Linked DNA regions of Homo sapiens. The protein of the gene in region 2 purifies or fractionates together with the protein of the main gene of each other region. This does not show direct contact. Each region holds a gene or a part of one and is shown on either strand. Other genes may lie near its edges.

Evidence for each region. The genes of interacting proteins can lie anywhere in the genome.
Region 1: the proteins of METTL2B (region 2) and IFT81 purify together in Homo sapiens (pull-down; one large-scale study listed by IntAct). This does not show direct contact.

The regions. Positions count from the first base shown.
Region 1 is NC_000012.12:110,127,354-110,130,856, reverse strand, and holds part of IFT81 (intraflagellar transport protein 81 homolog), read right to left. Parts: intron 3,498-3,503; 5' UTR 3,477-3,497; coding exon 3,333-3,476; intron 2,812-3,332; coding exon 2,708-2,811; intron 1,908-2,707; coding exon 1,727-1,907; intron 1-1,726. UniProt on the Homo sapiens protein: Component of the intraflagellar transport (IFT) complex B: together with IFT74, forms a tubulin-binding module that specifically mediates transport of tubulin within the cilium. Binds tubulin via its CH (calponin-homology)-like region.
Region 2 is NC_000007.14:128,500,747-128,503,926, forward strand, and holds part of METTL2B (tRNA N(3)-cytidine methyltransferase METTL2B), read left to right. Parts: intron 1-156; coding exon 157-222; intron 223-1,015; coding exon 1,016-1,170; 3' UTR 1,171-3,180. UniProt on the Homo sapiens protein: S-adenosyl-L-methionine-dependent methyltransferase that mediates N(3)-methylcytidine modification of residue 32 of the tRNA anticodon loop of tRNA(Thr)(UGU) and tRNA(Arg)(CCU).

The sequences.
Region 1 (3,503 bases), on a different chromosome or scaffold from region 2:
GTGTAAATCATTATATATTGTAAATCATTGTGTGTGTGTATATCTCTTTCTCATTTTATATATATATGTATATGTATATACATATATATAGAGAGAGATACCTGTCAGATATGCTTCAAGAACAAGTATGTCTTTATTACCATTAATTCTTTCATCAACTAGCTGAGCATATTTAGCAAAGACTTAATCAGGTCGTGCACCGTGGCTCACGCCTGTAATCCCAGCACTTTGGAACCCGAGGTGGGCAGATCATGAGGTCAGGGGTTCGAGACCAGCCTGGCCAACATCATGAAACCCCATCTCTGCTAAAAATACAAAAATTAGCTGGGTGTGGTGGTGGGCACCTGTAATCCCAGCTACTAAGGAGGCTGAGGCAGGAGAATCACTTGAACCCAGGAGGCGGAGGTTGCAGTGAGCCGAGATTGCACCACTGCACTCCATCCAGCCTGGGCAACAGAGCAAGACTCTGTCTCGGAAAAAAAAAAAAAAAAGACTTAATCAACTTCCTCTAGATAAATTAATTTTTATCAGATTTATCGATGGTGGGAGCCTAGGAAGGAGAAAGTACACATTTACACTTCTCTATTTCCCACATTGTGTAAAATATTCAAAGGTAAGGACAGGTGGTCTCATTCTGCTGTGCTTCTCCCATGGCATCTACTGTGACATCTGACATAATTATTTGCATAAATACTGTCTTAAGAGATCAATATTGACTCTATTTTGAGTTACTGCCATGTCTACCCCAAATAGCAAAATATATGGATAAAAATAAAAATATTCAGTTGGTTACTGCGATTCAATCCAAATATTGAGCTAACATTAGAAGTGACTATACAAAATCTGGAAGAAAATAAAGATGGATAAGACATGGCACCTGTCTCTATGGGCCTCAGAATTTATTGGGAAAGACAGATTGACAAACTATTCACAACAATTTGGCACAAATCAGTCTATGTAAGTGCTATGGAATAAAAGTGTGAAACACTAAACAGAAGCACTTTTTAAAAAAAAAAAAAAATCAAAGTCCTTTTAAATCTGAGTCTAGTTTCTTTCTCTCCACAGTCTTTGACCAGCAATGTGCTTAGGGATCTCAGGATCAGAAGCCAGACCAGCCAGAATCCTCAGTACTCAAGAGCTTTAAGACCTTATGCCAGAGCCCAATGTTACTCCAAAACCTTGGCAAGAAAGGTGCACTGAGATTTCAAACTCCGGAATCTATCTCTACCCTTTGTCTGATTGGGAAGTGCTTTGAGACTGCAAGCCTAGGTTCTTTGCCTGCTTCTTTCCAGGACCTCACATGTCCCAATTTGCCTGGGATAGTGTCAATTTAAACCATTTGTCTTGGTGTTTAAATGTTATGATAGTCTGTTTCTCTCAAATTTGGATAAAAAACTATGTAGTCACCTTACTGATGAACAAAGTGCTGTGCAGACTTAACCCAGGATTCTATTTACCCACAATTGCTAAGTAATAAATTATTCTAAAATCTTAGTATCAGGTTTTTTTTTTTTCTATTCACATACTCCTATCACTAAAACAGTATTTGTGTGCAAAAGCCATTATCTTGAGATGTGGCCATAGTTGAACATTAGCTGATACAGTTTTATCTTCTTGTGCCACTTGGAACTACAAAGACAGCAAATAAAAAAAGAGTAACATGTATTTGAATATATACACCTTGAAATCCATTACAGTTTCAATGTACCATTTATGTATTGTTTACCTGTTTATTGGTGTCAGCCACAGTTTCATCCTGAAGAAACTCACTTGGTACCTCAAGTTTTATTAAAAAACGAGCTAAATATGCTCTTTTCTTCAGTTCATTAGTCCTCTGAAGAAGCCAGTGGAGCACTGGGTAAATTACAGGTTTACTTCCAATCACCAAACCCTGACGAAAAGTACTCCTAAGAGAGAAACACACATACACAAACACACACGCACTTAACGGTAAACTTTGAAGAGAGACAGCATTTTCTCAAAATCTGATTTACAATGTCCAAATTGCTTTCTGTAACTTTTTAAAAAAGATAAACCCAAGGAATCTTTTTTTTTTTTTTTTTTTTTTTTGAGACAGGGTCTCACTTTATTGCCCAGGCTTGAGCACAACGCAGCTCACCAAAGCCTTAACCTCCTGGCTCAGGTGAACCTCCCACCTTAGCCTCCCAAGTAGCTGGGACTAGAGGCACCAACCACCATGCCCAGCTGATTTTTTGTTGTTGTATTTTTTGTAGAGGCAGCGTTTCGCCATGTTGCCCTGGCTGGTCTCAAACTCCTGAGCTCAAGTGATCCTCTCACCTTGGCATCTCAAAGTGCTAGGATTACAGGTGTGAGCTACCATGCCTGGCCCCAAGGCTATTCTAAAGTCAGTCTGTACATTAGTTAGAAAATTAGAAAAATTTGGCCCTCAATATATCATTGGCATATCCAAGGAAGTTGTGTTTAAGCTGTTTTTATCTAGGATGGCAGATAAAGGATAAAATGGTATAGTGGATTTACCAGACAGTTTGATTAAGGCAAAGAACTGACCCTCTTAAGACTTCTGAGTTTGTTTATAGAAGGTTTAAGATTATTTTGAAACTCAGTGATGTTCTCAGGCCATCAAATGAGGGAAACCAGGTATTACCTACAAAGATTGATTGCAGTATATGAAGGTTTGGATATTAAAGCATAATTTTAAAAACTCAATACGTGATCAGATTCTTACATATCTGTGGCATTTCCTGAAGGTTTGTACTTAAGAATACCAAGAAGGCTCAACATTCGTTTGGCTGTCTGCTCTGGCATCTCCTCTCTGATATCCACAAGTTGCTAACAAAGAAATTGAAAAAAACATGTTATTGTTGTATATGTAACAAAGGACAATATTTAAACTCACTGACAAAATTGTTCTGCTAGAGCTTAACAGCACAATGGTCTCTTCATAAAACAGATTAAGGATGGAGGCCCCCAGATTCCAAGTGAGGGTACACCCAAGTCAGATCAAGATTCACATTAAGAATGTTAAGCTTCAAAAAAAGTATCCAGTGGAATGGACCAGTGTATGAGAGACATGAACTAACTTGCAATACAATAAAACCTTTTGTAAAAGAATTTTCATTCCCTAACCAAACCTATTTATGTCTGGAAGTGGATAAATAATTTTGAAATAAGGTACCAATAGATAATTTATTTTTGAGCTAGCAGAGAAATGTTATGCATTATTTACTATTACTTTACAGACATGGAAAATAAAGCTCAGAGAGGTTAAATAATGTGCCCAAGACTCACAGCTATTTAGAGGGAGAAATTGGCTTTCTGCTACCCATCAAAAAGAAAGAGAAAACTCTTACCTTTGGGTCAATCTCAGCCAGAACATCACTGAGAACTTGTAATAGTTGCATTGGCTCCAAGGAATCAAACGTGATTAAATTATAGTTCTTCCTAAAGGGCTCCTTATTGAGACTGTCCATAATGAATTTAATTTGATCACTCATAATTAGGTCTTATAATTTTAACTAAAG
Region 2 (3,180 bases):
ACATTGTGACTTACTCCCGTTGAGCTGCTCTTCCCGAAGCACTGAGGCAGGAGTGCTCTCCACCCAACAAACTGGCCTCTCAGTTAACATTCCTTAGCAGTGCAAGTCAAAGAGACACTTTAAAGTGTCTCTGATTTTTAATACATCACTCTGCAGGTCAGTGTCTATCTGGAAATTTCTATGTGAGAGGTGATGGAACCAGAGTTTACTTCTTCACACAAGGTATGAAACACTCATCTTTTTACGCTAAAAGTCCCCAGTACCAGATGGTCTTCAAGGCACATTCAGAAGGAAAACTATCTGGCCCCTCCTGCCTTTTAGGCAGGCTGTTTCCTTCGGTTCCCCGCTGCTCACACCCTCTTCCACCCTGGGCTAGGCTACCCATGGCAGCCAGCCACTCGGGCCCCCAGGCAGCCCTGGCTTGTCCATGCCTTCAGTCCTGCTCTGCTCTCCCTGTCTGCCACTGTCCAAAATGGGAAGCCTGCCCACTCTGCAAGGCTCACCTCCAGTCCAGCCTGTCTCACCCTCTACACGGGGTTGTGCTTTGGTGTGCCTGGGTCAGGGTGAACCCTGGGTTCTAGGGGTGCCGGGAACTGCTCTCCTCTGCAACTGGCCCATCCACAGGCTTCATCCTTCACTTGGGCCTTCTGTTCCTGGGCCCTTTTTAGGGTCACCTTCTTTGAGCCTTTGGTTAAGATGATGAAACCTCTTTCCTAAAGCAATTGCTTTGACATACGTAGATAGTTTTGCATAAATTTTAAGGTGTTCATAGAGCCTAAAGGCCAAATATAAACCAAAGGTTTTTAAAAAAGAAAAAACCGCGGCCTATACACAGTGGCTTCCCCTACCTAAACATGAACTTGTTGTTACCAAGCCACCACTGCATTTATAACCAAATGGCCATGTAAAAAACACGACAGCAACTTCCCAGAGCCCCATTTAACAAGGACTTAGTAGATAAAAATGCCTTTTCTTGAGGGGAAAATGCATAAACATCTTTTATTTTCCACACTAGAGGAACTGGACACGCTTTTCACCACTGCTGGACTGGAAAAAGTTCAGAATCTGGTGGACCGCCGACTGCAGGTGAACCGAGGGAAGCAACTGACAATGTACCGGGTTTGGATTCAGTGCAAATACTGCAAGCCCCTTCTGTCCAGCACCAGCTAAGAGGCACCTGCTGCCAACACGATGCAAGCCCGTTGTGTTTCCGAGCTTTTTTAAAAAAAAATTTGTAGCACCGGGCATGGTGCATGCCTGTAATCCCAGCCACTCAGGAGGCTGAGGCAGGGAGGATCCATTGAGCCCAGGAGTCCAGCCTGGGCAAAATAGCGAGAGACCCTGAATCTGAAAGTAATGATAAAATAAAAAGAATATAAATGAGGTCTCGTTGATGCTGGACAATTCAAGAATTCAGACTTGAACCTTAAACCTAGGAAAAGTTACTTTGTATCAGGATTCTAACAATTATGCTTCATATTTGTGAAGTCCTTTAAAACATAATTTTCTCAAGTTCTTTCTTTGAGACCTCAATCTGTCTTAGCATTTTGTAACTAATAACTGAAATTTTATTCAAAGGAATTGTAAACCTTAAACCACCATTTATTTCCATGTGAAAAAGTGTTATATATGACAAGTGTTTTTTGATTGTAATTGCGTTAAATCTTTTGAGAGTGTAAATGCCGGGCTAGGCAATTGCAGTTAATACATACAGGGGTTAGTGAAGGGCTTATTAAGTTGTAGGGGAAGCAAGCTGGGAAGAATCAGATCAGATATTTTCCTGACAAGAAAAAAATGACCCTGTAGACAGCATCAAAATGTGGTGTTCTTGTTAAGTAATTGATCGTGGTCTTTGCTTTAATCTTAGTTCCGCCAGGCACGGTGGCTCACACCTGTAATCCCAGCACTTTGGGAGGCCGAGGCGGGCAGATCACCTGAGGTCAGGAGTTCGAGACCAGCGTGGCCAACATGGTGAAACCCCGTCTCTACTAAAGATAAAAAAATTAGCTGGGTGTGTTGGTGGGTGCCTGTAATCCAGCTACTCGGGAGGCTGAGGCAGGAGAATCACTTGAACCCAGGAGGCAGAGGTTGCAGTGAGCTGAGATTGCGCCACTGTACTCCAGCCTGGGCAACAAAGCAAGACTCTGTCTCAAAAAAATAAAAATAAAAAAAATCTTAGTTCCATGGAATTTTAAGCACTGTTCCCCCTCTAACCTATGTCTAAAGAATTAAAAGAATTTGGCTGGGTGCGGTAGCTCATGCCTGTAATCCCAACACTTTGGGAGGCTGAGGCAGGTGGATCACGAGGTCAGGAGATCGAGACCATCCTGGCTAACACGGTGAAACCTCGTCTCCACTAAAAATACCAAAAAAAATAGCTGGGCATGGTGGCATGCGCCTGTAGTCCCCTGTAGTCCCAGCTACTCGGGAGGCTAAGGCAGGAGAATCGTTTGAACCTGGGAGGCAGAGGTTGCAGTGAGCCGAGATCATGTCACTGCATTCCAGCCTGGGCAACAGAGGAAGACTCTGTCTCAAAAAAATAAAAGAAAAGAATTTTCACTTTTTGCAAAATTATCTTTTTTTACTGCACCCTTAAGTGTTTGACACAAAAGGAATTGAGAGAACTTCTTAATTTTAACCACATCATCACTTCACTTCTGAATGTGATCACTGTCAGTGTTAGATGCTTTTTTTTTTTTTTTTTAGGAGACAGGGCTCTCACTTTGTTGCCCAGGCTGGAGTTCAGTGGTGCAATGATAGCTCATTATCACCTCGAACTTCTGGCTTGAGCCATCGCTCCACCTCAGCCTCCTGAGTAGCTAGGACTGCAGGTGGGCACCATCATGCCTAGCTAATTGTTAGATCCTTTTTTTTTATGTTCTGCATTTTTTCAATTATTTTTACATATTTCTGTCTTGATCCATGCAGTTATAGGATATATCCTTAATTTTAGAAAGTAAGGACTTTTCGACCAGGCATGGCGGCTCACGCCTATAATCCCAGCACTTTGGGAGGCTGAGGTGGGCAGATCACTTGAGGTCAGGAGTTCCAGTCCAGCCCGGCTAACATAGTGAAACCCCGTCTCCACTAAAAAATAAAAAATCAGCCCGGCATGGTTGTGGGCGCCTGTAATCCCAGCTACTCAGGAGGCTGAGGTAGGAGAATTGCTTGAACCTGGGA